Linked DNA regions of Homo sapiens: region 1 is linked to region 2. The links come from fine-mapping of genetic effects on gene expression. Tissue or cell type: lymphoblastoid cells. Region 2 holds a variant in brackets; the other region holds the start of a gene. All regions are shown on one strand. Distances are from middle to middle.

Evidence for each region. PIP is the estimated chance that this variant, and not a neighbour inherited with it, causes the effect.
Region 1: it holds the start of RFFL, and the variant in region 2 is fine-mapped to the expression of RFFL in lymphoblastoid cells (GTEx, PIP above 0.99).

The regions. Positions count from the first base shown.
Region 1 is chr17:35,058,685-35,066,865 of GRCh38, reverse strand. RFFL (ring finger and FYVE like domain containing E3 ubiquitin protein ligase) reads left to right here and starts at 3,159. Exons shown (of 7, transcript NM_001017368.2): 1 at 3,159-3,290. All of the region lies in intron 5 of RAD51L3-RFFL (RAD51L3-RFFL readthrough), which reads left to right. RefSeq lists enhancers at 2,978-3,077, 2,527-3,322, 2,409-3,608 and a silencer at 3,318-3,387.
Region 2 is chr17:35,003,874-35,012,054 of GRCh38, reverse strand. LIG3 (DNA ligase 3) reads right to left here. Exons shown (of 20, transcript NM_013975.4): 20 at 2,312-7,782. The coding sequence ends at 7,549. It overlaps RFFL (ring finger and FYVE like domain containing E3 ubiquitin protein ligase), which reads left to right. Exons shown (of 7, transcript NM_001017368.2): 7 at 1-6,065. The coding sequence ends at 87. It overlaps RAD51L3-RFFL (RAD51L3-RFFL readthrough), which reads left to right. Exons shown (of 7, transcript NR_037714.1): 7 at 1-2,943. It also overlaps the pseudogene OSTCP7. Among named protein-coding and RNA genes, the nearest start is that of LIG3, 27 kb to the right of the region's middle. The variant G/A (reference allele first, on the strand shown) is at 4,962.

The sequences.
Region 1 (8,181 bases), 55 kb before region 2:
GAGGTCACTGAACACCAAGATTAGAATTTGGCAATCATTAATTATCAACAAGGTGAGACAGGCACTGATTCCTGGAAATGTGCATTTATCCATTCACCGACTTCTCAGTTAGAAAAAGGATGTGGACACAAGTAAGATTAATTTTGTTAAAAACAAGAAATGTGCAGTATCATTTAGGATGCTGGGGGTAGGGAAGTAGATAAAAGGGAGATGTTGAGAGGAAAGAGTGTGAAGAGAGAGTAAAGCAGTTTGTAAGTGATACAAACTTTAAAATTTTAACTGAATTTTAAACTACCAAGTCATATTTGAATATATGCTTGTTGTAAAAAAATTCATGATTTTTGGGGGGTAATTTGGATAAAGCTAAACATAGCTATTTGATCTTTATTCCCATTACAGTGCTCTCCCTGCTGTGTGCATCCTCCCAGATCTTCTGTATGTATTTGGTAATTTTCTGTGGATTTGGAAGACTACAGAATCCTGAGAAATGGATATTTTAATTTCTCTTTTGAAACCTGCTTATTGTTTATAATGTCAAGATCTATTGCAGAAAAGAAAGTAAATCTGGGATGTCAATGACATCACATATGTCTGTTCAAATGAAACAATGGGCACATACACATATGCACACTCATTAAATATCTGTTGAGACCACCCTATTAAAAAAAGCATAAATAGTTTTGGGTGTTAAGTTACTTGAGTTTTAAAATAACGTATTTTCTGTTTTTGTTGTTTTTTGTTTTGAGATGGAGTCTCCTTCTGTCGCCTGGGCTGGATTGCAGTGGCGCAATCTCGGCTCTGCAACCTCTGTCTCCTGGGTTCAAGTGATTCTCCTGCCCCAGCCTCTAGAGTAGCTGGGGTTAGAGGTGTATGCCACCATGCCTGGCTAATTTTAAAATAATGTATTGAAAGAACTTAGTCAGAAAGCCACAGTTATTATTTCTCCCATAGCCTCATATTCTCATAATTTTCATGTAACCTCATAAATCCTCAAGTGCCTGAAACCACTAGTTCAAACGAGTACCTTTTTAAGCTCTAAAATGTAATCCTCAACCTTTCCACTTTAAAAGGAAGAACTAGGATGGAGTGTGGCTATAATTTGGGGCAGTTGGTTAAAACTGTATCAGAGTCCCAAAGAGGGGAATGATAAGCTGCAGCAGCTCTGTTCACTTGCTCAATGGTGTTTCTCTTAGTCAACTTAGGAGTTCCATGCCTTTGGCCTTCAGGCTGCTCTTTATATAGTTCGTATCTGTCTCCTGGGCATAGTACTGTCTGGATTTTCTCTTTCTTTTTTTTTTTTTTTTTTTGAGACGAAGTTTTGCTCTGTTGTTGCCCAGGCTGGAGTGCAATGGCACAATCTTGGCTGACTGCAACCTCTGCCTCCCGGGTTCAAGCGATTCTCCTGCCTCAGCCTCCCGAGTAGCTGGGATTACAGGCATGTGCCACCACACCTGGCTAATTTTGTATTTTTAGTAGAGATGGGGGTTTCTCCATGTTGGTTAGGCTAGTCTTGAACTCCCGACCTCAGGTGATCCGCCCACCTCGGCCTTCCAAAGTGCTGCAATTATAGGCGTGAACCGCTGTGCCCGGCCCTCTTATTTAAAGTTCGCAAATACAGAACAGGTCAGGAGCTTTTCTAATCATTTTTTTTTTTTCTGAAGGAGGTTCCATATTTGTCTGTACCTTGAGAGTTGTTTCATACTAGAATTTGTAACTTATCATCAACTACAGAAATTTTTTTTAAAGTGTGGTTGAAGAGATAATGGTTGTCAGCTGCTATAAAGATGTGTTTATCATTCAGAAAGGACTAATTAACATGTACTATAGGGAAACTTCTTTAAACAAAGCCATTTTCTGAAAGGAAAACACTGAAGGGGAGGAAATAAAACAGGGAACATTTTATAATACCTTATCAAAGCTCAGCGTGGCTATCCTACTGGAATAATGTAATTAAGGAGAATTAAGTGAGTTGGATAAATAACTTTTTAAAACTAGCCCCTTGAATAGAAAATTAAGTAGTATAGTTTTTAAACTCAAATTCTGTCTGCACGTACATTTTAATTAACCTAACATTATTGAATGACAAGCTGAGTTGGCAGCTACATCCAGAGTTCATGCCATGTGAGACCTACCTTAAAGGATGAACGAAGCTGGGTGCAGAGGCCTCAAATGCCCTGCTAAGAAATAGCTGATGGCCTTGGGGAACTGTCATACATTTTAAGCAGGAAACAGAAGGATCTAATAGGAACTTTAGTTTCTCTCTTGTCAAATTAAAGCACACAAAAAGCAAGGACTTGATCTTTTTTTTTTTTTTTTGTATAACACCAATGTCAATTCTAGCCTGTCAGGGCAAATTCAGTAATTAATAGCTGTTGATGAGCCAGTCATTCTAGATTGATTTTTTAAATAAGCAGGCTAATAAATGAGAATTGACATAAATTTAGGGATGTCTCTTTTCAGAGCAAGTGTTAAGGTGATTTTCATAGTCTTCTGTATTCCCTATGCATCCAGTAGGTGTGATGGTAAATGATTTGGCTTTAGCATAGAGAATGTGGCAGCTGATTAAAAAAAAAAAATTCCAGTGCATCTATCTTAATGAGAGAACTTGAGTTGTCTGAAGAAATAGAGAGGTCAGAGGAGGCCTAGTGGGAAAAAAGAACAATGAGCCTGGTTAGAACTGACAAAAATTCACCCTAATGATTTGACTGGCTAATGATGACTGGGCAAGTTCCCTGAGTCCACTGACCCAGATGTTCTAATTTGTAAATGCAAAGTGACTTATTTATCAGCCTCCTGGGGAAATCTTCAGAGCTGTGAACCTGCTATGTTCAGTAATCTTGCTGGCCCCAGCCCCAGCCTGTTCTCAGATGAAATTTTAGAAACTGGCCACTGGAACTTTTTGGGTAAGGGCTCTGGAGGTGGCCAAGTTACCAGTAGTGGGGGAATGAGGTTTACCTGCCCCCAGTAATCAGCACTTGATTTAAAACAATCAGTGAGCTGCCTCTTCTTTCCTAGGTTGCAGTTGACTGCGGTTGGTTCAGGCTGAGTTGTTTGGGAAGTACAAATTTTGCCCAGCGTGAGTCAGCACTGCCCTGGGTAAACTCCCTGCTGTGTTGCAATCTTGCTTACCAAAGATACATCCCCAGGCGGCACCATTCACTTCACATGAAAGCCGCTGCTCTTGGTTCCTGAGATGATCTCATCTGAACATGGCTCCAGCGACCTCAGCCACAGGAACTAGAGACAGCTTGCTTTCTGTCGTGGCAATGTTTTGAAACTGGCAAAATCAGGTAACCTCAAACTGTTTTCTTAAGTTTCATTAGCTAGATGAAGCTGCATTAGAAACTGGGAAAATCCTGTCTTCAGAAGTGAGTCAGGTTTTTTTTTTTTTTTTTTTTTTTTTTTTTTTTGAGACGGAGTTTCACTCTTGTTGCCCAAGCTGGAGTGCAATGGTGTGATCTCGGCTCACTGCAACCTTCACCTCCCGGGTTCAAGTGATTCTCCTGCCTCAGCCTCCCAAGTAGCTGGGATTATAGATGTGCGCCACCATGCCCGGCTAATTTTGTATTTTTAGTAGAGACAGGGTTTTGCTGTGTTGGTCAGTCTGGTTTCGAACTCCCAAGCTCAGGTGATCCACCCTCCTCAGCCTCCCAAAGTGCTGGAATTATAGGCATGAGCCACGGCCCCCGGCCAGAAGTTTTCTTTCATTTGAGTTCTGGATGTGGAGTTAGGTCCAATTAAATCACTGATTATATAAATCTTAGAAAAGTAAAACGTTAGGTTTACAGCTTTATCCGTCATTTGCTCTTGTATTTTGTTTTTTTGTGTGTATCTTGTGAGAAACACTTTAGTCAAACTAAGCCATTGTTAAAGGAAAAGAAGTGAAGGCATTTGGTTGCCTTCCTAATAACTAAATATTGAGTTGTGGAGAACACTGTCTTATCAGTGAGTTTGTTCCCATATTCCTTTCTGAATTAATAGGAAGAACCTCCCTCATCTCTAATTCTACTAGGCTACTACTCTATCTCCCTCCTGCTTTTCATCGCCAAACTTTTGAGTCCTTCACCTAATCAGACTATGATATCTCTAGGTAGTCGTCACCCTCCAAATTACGTTTCTGCTCCTTATAATTCCAACAAATTGCCCACGTTCTCTTTCACCTCAGACCTTAGCATATGTAAGCGTTCTTTTACACACCTTCCCCAAGCTTAATCTGGCCAACTGGTTTCAGCCTAGAAGTCACCTCTTCCATGAAGCCTCTTCTTACTTACCAGGGTTGAGTACTCAGGAGAACCTGGTATTTACTCCAATCATAGTATGTATTGAGAATCAGGGTCTGCTTTGCTAGAATTGTATCCATGGTACGTTGCACATAGTAGGTTCTCAGTAAGGGTAGAATGAGCAAGAGCCTGTACTGTACTTTCTCAACTCTGATCCTCTCATCAACTCTTTTTTTTTTCTTCTGAGAGGAATCTTGCTCTGTCACCCAGGCTGCAGTGCAGTGGTGTGATCTTAGCTCACTGCAACCTCTGCCTTCCTGGTTCAAGCGATTCTCCTGCCTTAGCCTCCTGAGTTGCTGGGACTACAGGTACGTGCCACCACGCCCAGCTAATTTTTGTATTTTTAGTAGAGACAGTGTTTCACCATGTTGGCGAGGATGGTCTCGATCTCTTGACCTCATGGTCCACCTGCCTTGGCCTCCCAAAGTGCTGGGTTTACAGGTGTGAGCCACCGCGCCCGGCCTTGTTCATTCTTTTTATGCTCACATCTTTAAATGTGCTAAACCCTGTTGATTTTGTTGGAGTACTGTTTGATGTGTGGCTTTTCTTCATTCCCACTGTCATTGCCTTAATTTACCAGAGGTCAAAACTGGACGTTTAAAGTCAGGCTGGGCACGGTGGCTCACGCCTGTAATCCCAGCACTTTGGGAGGCCGAGGTGGGCAGATCACCTGAGGTCAGGAGTTTGAGACCAGCCTGGCTAACATGGTGAAACCCCATCTCTACTAAAAACAAAAAATTAGCTGGGCGTGGTGGCACGTGCCTATAATCCCAGTTACTCAGGATGCTGAAGCAGGAGAATCACTTGAACCCAGGAGGTGGAGGTTGCAGTGAGCGAGGATCACACCACTGCACTCCAGCCTGAGCAACAGTGAGACTCCATATCAAAAAAAAAAAAGAGTTTGAGACCATCCTGGCCAACATGGTGAAACCCTGTCTGTATTTAAAAAAAAAAAAAAAGGCACGCCACGCATGGTGGCCAGTGCCTGTGGTACCAGCTACCCAGCAGGCTGAGAAAAGAGAATTGCTTGCACCCAGGAGGTGGAGGTTTCAATGAGCTGAGATTGTGCCACTGAACTCCAGCCTAGGCACAGAAGAAGACTCCATCCCAAAAATCAATCAGTCAGCCTAAGGGCTTAAAATTTTGTGTGTGAATACTTTTAGGCACCATCAGAGAGAAGGCCTGTACTCTTCAAAGATTACGGATACCACCATTTTCTGACATCTTACACACTGAAGACTTAGCATTTTACCTGCATTGCCTCTAGGAATTTGAGTTTGTAACTCCTAGTTCAGACCCTTATCAAATGGCCACTCCTCCATAAGTCTTTCCTTGCTCCTATCTTCTCCATATTGTTGCCCAAGTTATCTTTTTAAAGTCCACATCTAATCTTTTCATTTAAGGTGCCATTTGTTCCCTGTTTTCCACTTAGCTTGACTTCTAAAAGCTTTCACAGTTGGATTCTTTCCTACATGTTGCTGTTAACCATCTCATCTCCCTCTCCCCTGGCCATTTCTCTCCTCTCCAGCTTCACTGAACTTCTCATGTTAACATTCCATGGATATACCATGTCTTTTAGGACTCTGCCTTTTCCCAATGGACTCTCCCTTCTCTAACTGGCAAGATACTCATCCCTCAGGACACTTAGTTCATATATGCATCTTCTCTGACTTCTCTGTCTTTTCTGACAGACAGCACTGTCTGTCTCTTCCACTAGACTGTTGAGTTCTTTGACTGAACTTGGTGTCCCTGGACTAGAGCTTGGCACCATCAGAGAGAGTGGCTGACGTGGATCTCCGGGCTCAAACCGTTATTCTTTGCAATATTAGAAGCTTTTTTGTTAGATGGCATGGTTTTTCATTCCTATTTGATGAACATGAGCCCATGGCTGCTTATTTTGTATGTGTTACCTGCCACCATCAAGTAATCATTCAAAGTTAATTTGAAGATTTAAAGGGTTTGCTGAGATCTAGTCCCGCAATATCACGACATTTTTATGGTGTTTTACAAAATTATTTCCCTCATATGGTTTTATTTGCGTTGGGTAGGCTTTATTTATTATCCCTATTTTACCAGTGATTATAAAGCTAGTCTGATACCAAAGCATATATACATTTAGGTAAGACTCAGAGAGAAAACATGGTTCTTACACTGCATTAAGCAGCTGGTTTGTCTCTTAATATAGTAGTTAAATATACTCTATCAGGTTCCACAGAAATGGTGCCTTTGCTCGATAGGCAAGTGCTAACGGTCTTGCCTTTTACAAGGCCACTTTATCATCAAGGTAGGAGGAGGAGGTACTCTGAACCTGCCTGACCTATGGGAAGGCCCTGGTTGTGGTTAGAGACCTTGATTGAAATTAATGGTGTGCGTACTCCAACCTCTCAGGTTTTTCTTTTATACTTCAAATATCTGGAAGTTGTGAAAACCTGCTGCCCTGGTGGAGTATCAAACCAGGCTGGTGAGTGAAAGCGGTCATCCCAAAATGGAGTAAGCTGAGTGTTAAGGGCAGAAAACCTTTTACAGTTATAGTAAGTAATTAACTTTTTAGATCACTTCACAACTTTTGGAGTGCTAAAATGCCATATTTGGGACTATGAGAAATTCCATTATAAAAAGCTGAACCATTAGAGCTAGGAAATAATCTCTGTTAGATATTGGCATATGGTGTTCAATTTTGGGTCTCTCATACTTGAGAGGATAATTAAAATGATTAAAAGGTTGAAAAACAGGTCTTATCATTATAAGTTTTAAAAAGGGGGGAAAGATTTTAGCCTAGAGAAAGAAAAGCTAAGAGATAACTTCATTATCATCTTCAAATACAAGAATAGTTTTGCCAGGGGGATTTTTATTAATTATTCTTCATGAACTTCAAAGATTTAAGAGGAAATGGTCTTAAATTGAAGGAGGAGCAATTTTGATGAATACGAGAAAGAATTTTTTGATCATCAAAGTGGGGAAATGTTTGAATGACTGCCCAAGAGAGTGTTGAATTTCTGACTGTTTCAGTTGTCTATTGTGTGACAAATTACCCGAAGACTTTTGGTGGCATAACATGACAACCATTTTATTGCCTATGATTTTGTGGGTTAGTAATTCAGGAAAGGAGGACATATTTTTTTTTGTCCCATATGATGCTGATTGAGCTGGAGGATCCAAGAAGGCTGCACATGTCTGTACCTTTGGAGCTAGCTGTTGGCTGGGATATCTTGGTTCTCTGTGAGTTCTCTTTCTTGGTCTCTCATCACTTATAAACCTATATCGAGTGGCCGAGCGCAGTGGCTCATGCCTGTAATCTCAGCACTTTGGGAGGCCGAGGTGAGTGGATCACCTGAGGTCGGGAGTTCCAGACCAGCCTGACCAACATGGTGAAACCCCGTCTCTACTAAAAATACAAAAATTAGCTGGGTATGGTGGTGGGCACCTGTAATCCCACCTACTTGGGAGGCCGAGGCAGGAGAATTGCTTGAACATGGGAGGCGGAGGTTGCAGTGAGCCAAGATTGTGCCATTGCACTCCAACCTGGGTGACAGAGCGAGACCGTCTCAAAAAAAAAAAAAAAAAAAAATTCTAGCTCGAGCTTCTTTTACATGGTGGCTGGGCCATAATGGAAGCTGCAGGATCTCATAAGACCTAGGCCTGGCAGTCATACATCATCACTTTTGCCCCATTCTTTTTGTCAGAGTAAGTCACAATTATAGCCCAGATACAAGAGGAGGGGACATTGACTTCACCTCTAAAGGATAGAGGGTAAAAATCACATTGCAAAAGGGCATGCAATGTGATTGGGATTATTACTACCAACTTTATTTTTTGAAACAGAGTCTCGCTCTGTCACCCAGGCTGGAGTGCAGTGGCGCAATCTCGGCTCACTGCAACCTTTGCCTCCCGGGTTCAAGTG
Region 2 (8,181 bases):
ACCTGTACCAAGTGTGGCAAGCGCATGAATGAATGTCCCATCTGCCGGCAGTATGTAATCCGAGCTGTGCATGTCTTCCGGTCCTGAGAGCTTGCATCGGTTTCTTCAGTGCCTTACAGGGAAATAGCCTGGGGTGTCTGGGCTCAGGGTTGGCCAGCTTGCAGAGGAGCAAGCTAGTAGAAATATTGCAGGGTTCCCAAAACCAGGTCAAGCAAGATGCCATGTCACCCCTGAGCATGCCTGTCTTCCCAGGGGTGTACCTCTTGGCTGGCAAAGCCCAAGGCCAGTGGGAACTTGTATAAATCACATGGGTATGTTCTTGGTTCAGTGATCTTGGAGTGATGATGGTAACTGATGAACAGAGAACTTTCCAGAACTTGGGTCCTGTCTTCCTCCCTGAACCTAGACAGTTTCACCCCTCCTCCTGTACCCAACCCATCCCCACCCCATATGGGAGATGCTTGCCCATGTGTTTCATCAATCAGAAGTCCTCCTCCCCAGCACATTCGGATTTAAATTTCTGGTCTCTCCGGCTTTCTGTGCTTTAACTATCTTTGCTAAAGTCTCTTGCTACATTGCCTAAATCCATTTGTTTCTTTGGACCAAAAATGTTAGTTTACCAGACCGATAGTGGTCCTTAGGACAGATTTTAGACCAGTAAACTTATCTTTGGTGAGAAATGAAATACAAATGCTATAGAAAAATTTCAAAGTTGTTAAAAGCCACTTCATTAAATGCTGGGATTGGAAGCTGTTGGTCTCCTGACCTGACTCTGGGAGCCAACAAAACATCAGGCTCCCAAACTGCTGGGAAATTTGTTTCTGTCTGCAAGGGATAGTGCGTGCATAATCCCTGCTGCTGCTTCTCTTGGGACCTGATTTGCACCATCCTTAGTTTATGCGGAAAGGGGAAGCAATGGGTGGAGGCAGTGGCCTTCTCCTTAATTTTGGCTTGGCTTCTGATCCTTTTCCCAACTAGAAGTCTTAAGCCACTTTTCGCTGAAAATGAAATCCCTCCCTTATCCATGGTAGTTTTAAATTTGGTTTCATTGAAGAAATAGATTTAGGCAAAGAGCCTGTGCTCTTCTCTGGCCAGACTGCTGTTGAAGTTCCTGGAGAGCAAATGTTAAGACAGAGCACTTAAGAGCTTTCAGGAGGTACTGAATGAGACTGGATTCTGTTGTAAGCCGACAGTTCAAGTCTTTATTTCCCAGGTTGGTGGGGAGTGAGGAGACCCTACTTTCATTCCCTTTCCTAGCCCACTGATTTTTGGGGGCAGGTCAGGGAGAAAGCATTTTTTTTTTTTTTTTGAGTCTCACTCTGTTGCCCAGGCTGGAGTGCAGTGGTACAGTCTTGGCTTACTGCAACCTCCACCTCCCAGGTTCAAGCTATTCTCCTGCCTTAGCCTCCAGAGTAGCTGGGATTATAGGCGCCCACCACCACACCAGGCTAATTTTTGTATTTTTAGTAGAGACGGGGTTTTACCATGTTCACCAGGCTGGTCTTGAACTCTTGACCTTATGATCCGCCCGCCTCAGCTTCCCAAAGTGCTGGGATTACAGGCGTGAGCCACCACACCCAGCAGGAGAAACCATTTTCTAGGCTCTTTAGGAAGGACCATGCAATGAGTAGGTGATGTATTTGAGCCCTCACAGTCTTTACACCCCTAGAGGAGCTGGAGGACTTAAGAGTTTGCTGCAGAAGCGTGGCCAAGCACAAAACACATGATCAGGAAAGCAGAGTGTTTTCCCATTACCAATGGATGAACTATGCAAACCCTAAACGCCTTGGCAGACACCTCCCACCCCTTACCCCTCCCATGCAGCTGAAAAATCTGAGACTAGAACCAATCATGACTCTGGATGGCAGAGGGAAACCTCTAAAGGGACTTATTACATTGGTACAGACATATTTATGCTTTCTTCCATCACCAACCACTAAACCCCTTTGGAGGAATGAAATAACTGCATAAACTAGTCAACTGAACACTGGGCCACTTACCTCAATGTTATACAAAGTCCTGGATGATTTGATTCTGAACCACAGCCTTTGCAGGAGTTGGGGGAATCAGATTTGCTCATGAAGACATCCCTTTCCACTTTTGTCATGGGCAGTAAATACTATAGTTTACAATGCCTACCAATTAGCAAAGGATCATTCATTCAGCTACTCAGTTCCTCTGTAAAACAGGTCTATGTATGTGCAATTCAGCTAAGATCTAGCAGTAACTTAAGGGCAGAAGCTGGCTCTCTACTTACAACCTGCTTTCTCTGCTGAAGCCTTACCTCCTCTTCAGTTTCCCTCCTAGACACAAATCGAAAATAATATACTGATAGCTGGTTAGTAACCTCAGTAAGAATTAAAACTGAGGTTGTTTACTCATTTTGCCTTTAAATCTTTTATCCCCTTTTGGTGAAGGTTTCCCTTTAGGAAAAAAGGTGTCAAACAACCCTGATTTTTTTTTTTTTTGCATCATTTTTATTACACCAAATTAAAGTTGGGAGTTCCAAGATCCCATTCCAGTTAATATTTAACCAAGGTCTAAAATTTGATTTTTTTTAAATCTTTGAATCCTCCCTTCTGCCCCTCATGGATCCTTGGTTTTAATGATATGGAAACATCTAATTCTTAGAATTATTCCGTAGCTTTTGCTGATTACTCTGAGATTTCAGTTAAGACTTGTTTCAAAAGACAGATAGCTGACTGGTTCATAATACATTGGAATAGTTGGATCCAAACTAATAAGAATAAGCTGTACAGGAACTAGTGCTCAATATACATTGTATAAATTTGTGGAAATCTCTTGGATGTGAATTGTTACTTCAAGTGGCTTTTATTAAGATTTTCTCAGACTTACTTGGAGGTTAAAGCAAACCCAAATGTGTATTATTTTGTTACAGAGCTCTGCTTTATAATTTTGTAATAAAGTTTCAATACAGACACCTGTCCTGTCTGGTGCGAGGATGTTAGAGGTTGATAGGACTGACAAAAGAGCCTGACAGTGGTTCATGCTATAATTTCCACACTTTAGGAGGCCAAGGTGGGAAGACTGCTTGAGCTCAGGAGTTTGAGACCAACCTGGGCAATGTAGTGAGACCTTGTCTCTACTTAAAAAAACAAACAAGGGCCGGGTGCGGTGGCTCACGCCTGTAATCCCAGCACTTTGGGAGGCTGAGGCGGGCAGATCACGAGGTCAGGAGATCGAGACCACCCTGGCTAACACGGTGAAACCCCGTCTCTACTAAAAATACAAAAAATTAGCCAGGCGTGGTGGCGGGTGCCTGTAGTCCCAGCTACTCGGGAGGCTGAGGCAGGAGAATGGTGTGAACCCGGGAGGCGGAGCTTGCAGTGAGCCAAGATTGCGCCACTGCAGTCCGGCCTGGGCGAAAGAGCGAGACTCTGTCTCAAAAAACAAAACAAAAAAAAACACAAACAAAAAACCCAAAAAAACCAAAAAATTAGCCGTGCATGGTGGTGCATGTGGGTAGTCCCAACTACTTGGAAGGCTGAGGTGGGAGGATCACTTGAGCCAGGAGATTGAAGCTGCAGTGAGCTCTGATCGCCACCGCACTCCAGCCAGGGTGACAGAGTGAGACCCTGTATTAAAAAAAAAAAAAAATTGACAACTGATAAACCACAAGCTAATCCTGGGATGTGCACATGGCCTGGGATTAGCCTGTGGTTGGGCCAAGTGACCTTGGTCAAGATGCTCAGTGTTGTTGTAACTAACTAACTTGCTCAAGACCACAAATGTAATATATGGAAGAGGCCATGGAACAACCTAGAAGAGAATGAGAGCTGGGTAGGTAAAGGATGAATCCCAAGACCAATTGGGTTGAAGCACCAAGTGAGTTCAGATATTTACACTGATCTAGAAGAGATGGGCCTTAAAGAACTGAAATCTGAGGACAGTTAGTATGCCCAGTTAGGTCTTCAGGTTACCCTGGGAGATACATGGTACCTTTTGGATACAGCTGTAGTACAGCTGGACTATGGCTCAGAAAAGGTTGGCCCAGGCTGGGCGCCATGGCTCACGCCTGTAATCCCAGCACTTTGGGAGGCTGAGGTGCGTGGATGACTCGAGGCCAGGAGTTTGAGACCAGTCTGGACAACATGGCGAAACGTGGTCTCTACTAAAAATACAAAAACTTAGCTGCGAGTGATGGTGTGTGCCTGTTTGTTAAGTCTTAGCCACTTGGGAGGCTGAGGCATGAGAATTGCTTGTGAACCCGGGAAGCAGAGGTTGCAGTGAGCTGAGATTGCACCACTGCACTCCAGCCTGAATGACAGAGCAAGAGTCTGTTTAAAAAAAAAAAAAAGGTTGGCCCAGCCTCGTGACAGACTGCTGTGTGTGCGCAGGCTTGTACAAACCTCCCTGACCAGGCGCCCAAGGAGCAGGGAAAAGACTACTGAGAATGCAGCCCCTGGGAGAACAAGATTATGTGTCCATCTGCTGTGACTGAGAAGAGAAAGGAATCTTGCCAAAAGGGCATAAAGGATCGAGGATGAGCCACAACACTTTGCTCACATTGCCCTAGGGAGCTGACCTGTTCAGCACCCAGTGATGACCTCTGCTTGATGCCAGCCAGCAGCATGTAGAGGTTCAGAAGAGGGAGGCCTCCAGCATTCTGCTGGAGAGATTTATGATGATGATGTTGAGGGCTGCATTGAAATACATGAAAGAAATACATGAAAGGATACAAAATAGTATATACAGTCAGATCTCAGCAGCAAAGACTGGAAGAAAATACATAAAAAACCACTGACATTGAAATGGCAATAACACACACTAAGGCAGAGAAGGGACAAGATGATCACCTGCAGCCAGCAGAGGCCCTTTCCTGTGAGTGTGCACTCTGGGTGTAAGCAACCAATAAGGGCAAGTGGGGCTGGGTCCAGGTTGGAGAGGACAGTGCCTTTGGCAGGATCCTGAGGAGACAGCCTTGTTCTGCTGCCCTGTCC[G/A]GTTGTTTGTTTGGCCTGAGGCTGAAGAGAGAAATGGAAATCTATGTAGGTCAGTACTCAAAGGAGGAGCAGCTTTTTGTCTCCATAGAGGATGGAATAAAAAGTATCTTATTCCTAATACTGAAGCAAGGCTGAATGGTGCCTATTCAAAAACACCAAATGTCCTGGGCTAGAGTCAGGAAAGTAAACCCCTCCCCCGTGCTGTCCCTACTCCCCCAACATACACATTTTAAACAGTAGGTGGAAGCCAAAGTCAATCAGATCAAAGTTGGGGGGGGGCGGTGGGGTGGCCAGGGGGCGCAGTGGTCCTTGATCTTATAGGTCCAGAGCCTGTTAATTTGTTCATAAGGTGAGAACTGACCCTCAAGAGCTGGAAGGATTGGGACATGGCAGCCAGTTTACAACCATATGGTGTCCTGATGAGCCTGCACTCAGAGTGGAGTGTTGGCTGGAACATGCACACCTGCAACTGAGGGTTCTAAAGTCATAGGTTAGGCCCTTCTCCCGGGTAGGGTCTGGACATGCACACCAGGAGTGACGTTCCCAACTCTAGATAACTATGTGCTAGGCTCTGGGCTAAGTGCTTTACATAATGTTGCTCAGGACAACAGGACAACCCTATGATTTAGGTGCACCCATTCTACTTGGAGGGATTGAGGCTTAGATGTTAACGTAACTTGCCTAAGGTTAGAGCCATTAAGTTTCAGGAGTCTGATCTGAACTCCGTCTACACCTGCACTGTCCAGTGTGGTAGTCACTAGTGACATGTGACCATTTGAAGTTGAATTAAAATAAGAACTTCAGTTCCTTAGTTGTGCCAGCTTCATTTCAATTGCTCAGCAGCTGTCTGTGGCTAGTTTGGTTGGATACTGCAGATTTATGGATATTTCCACTGCTGCAAAAAGTTCTATTGAATAGCACTTGTCTACACTAAATTGTCTCTCTTCCTTTTGTTCTTCAAATAAATCAGCCTCAGGTAGCACAGGAGCTGTTCTTTGTAAGCAGGTTGTATGGATCTGTTCTCAGGTGTGGATTTTTATTTTTTTCCCTGCAGATATGGAGTATATTTTCTTTAAGAAATTAAAAACTAAGAAGAAAATGCCACTCAACATTGTTGGTATTATCAATAGGTCAGCAGGAAAAAAAAAAATACTGTGATAAACTTGTCTCTCTGATACCAAGAAGAAATTCTAGTCCGAGCTTCAATATGCTTCCTGTTTTTTTCGCTAGGTATTTCTTTTACTGCTGCTCTTCATTCTTTCCCACATTTCATATTGGAGGATTGGTACAGCCTTTAGAACTTCATTGACAGGAGCAAATCCAGTATCCACTGATTTCTTCTTAAAGGCGCTCTAACCCATCAGATAGCCCGGCAGTTTCATTCACATGAATACTCCAGCCATGAAAAAACTCAGTAGGACACAGACGAATCCAATGAATAGAAGAAAAAAAATCGATTGAGTTTTGGGATATTTGGTGCATTCGACTGGTCCAGCATTATGAAACCTAAACCTCCCATTGTAAACAGGAAGCTGGATGCAAATCCTTCCATAATATACTGTCCATTTACTTTGTAGGCCAAGAAAGCTACTGGCCTCTGATGCCCACGTTCATCAGCCAATACTTGGGGGTTCAACAATATCATATAATTATTCCTCCAGTCATGAGGAAGTAAGACACCACCACCAGAGCATACACAGTCATGGCTGATGGCATGTGCAGCCAGGGTGGCTTCTTCAACTTCAGGTTGGAACACTCGAGCACTAAGAATGGGATATGGTACAAAGTCTCCATGTTGGTGGCAACAAGGGCTGTTCTTGGCCTCAAGCCCCATGTGGATTTTTATTCTTAAAGAACAGTCTTGTTTCCAGGTTTTGGGGATGCAGATCTTCCTGGAGCCCTCTATCCCTCCAGAGGAGTGGCCCAAATAACCTCCCCTTTCTTCATAAAGGCCCCATTTTCCTACCTGACCCTAGTCCCCTCCCTTCAAACTGGGGATCCTCACCATGTAATAGGAGAACACAGAGAAGAAAGTAAAAAAATTCATTTTGTTTTCTTTCACATGAGGTTTGTTCCTGGCAAAGCGTGTCAGGCTGAATACAAGTTCCGCTAAACAGAAGCATTTCCGAGGGCAGTCCTTTAAATACAACTTTAAAATGAGCCTGGAAGTACAAAGGAACAGGCAAGGATGGGAGAGAAGGCTTTGTGGACAGAGCTGCCATAGCCCAGCCTTTACTCCTTAATCTCTAGGGAAATTATTGGGGGTGTAGGTGGGGAAAGGACAAAGATAACTGCAAGATATTTTATTTATAAAAAGGGTAACTAAGCTGCTTTTCAAAGAAAACAAAAAGATGGCAAACCCAGCACCCAGCTCTGAAAGATCTATTTAAACCAGCAAGACAAACTGACTTCAGCTGTGGCACCCACAGCAACTAATTCCTGGTCCAGAAGAGACAGTGGAGAACTGGTGGGTTTGGGAGAAGCAAGCCCATTCCCCCTATACTGTGTCTATCTGCCTCCAGCCTGAGTCCAGTCCAGTAGTATGGTAAAGGAGAGTATGGCCTGAGGGAGAGGGAAGACAGCAAACCTAGCAGGGAGCTACCAGTCTCCGTTTCCGGATACATGCCCAAATCCACTCTGGGGAGACCTGCTGGGCCGCAGGGTTCTTGTCCCTGCTACCCAGCACGTGCGTGGCTGAAGTCATATCAAATTCCTGTACCAGGTCCCCGTCGAATGCCACAAAGTAGCGTCTGAGACGGCTGAAGTCTGGTGTGGAGGGTGGCAAGTAAAGCCGCACCCCAGTGAAGATGTCCAGCAATACCTGCAAATGCAGAGGGGTCAGGGTGGGGTCAGACCTACACTGGGTACAGATGGGTCTTCACCCAAATGAGCACGGGACAGAATGAGGGAGCCTAGAGTTAGGACACAAGCAGAGAAGTTTACTGGAATACCATGCATCAATACCCCCACCCCTCCAGTCACTCCAAATTATACAGGACTGACACGCCCCTCCATCCCTGCCTAGGGGAAAAGGAGAGTGGACAGGCCTCGACATCTGGGACCTGGAGATGGGAAGAGTACATGTGTATAAGAGCCACCCAGTCATGGTGGGCAGGCGGAGCTGGCTCTGACTCAGTGCCCCCAGACTCAGTGATGTCCCCTGAGACCAAGCAGTCTACTCTGTACAACCTGCTAGACTGAGGGGTCAGGAGTCCTGCTT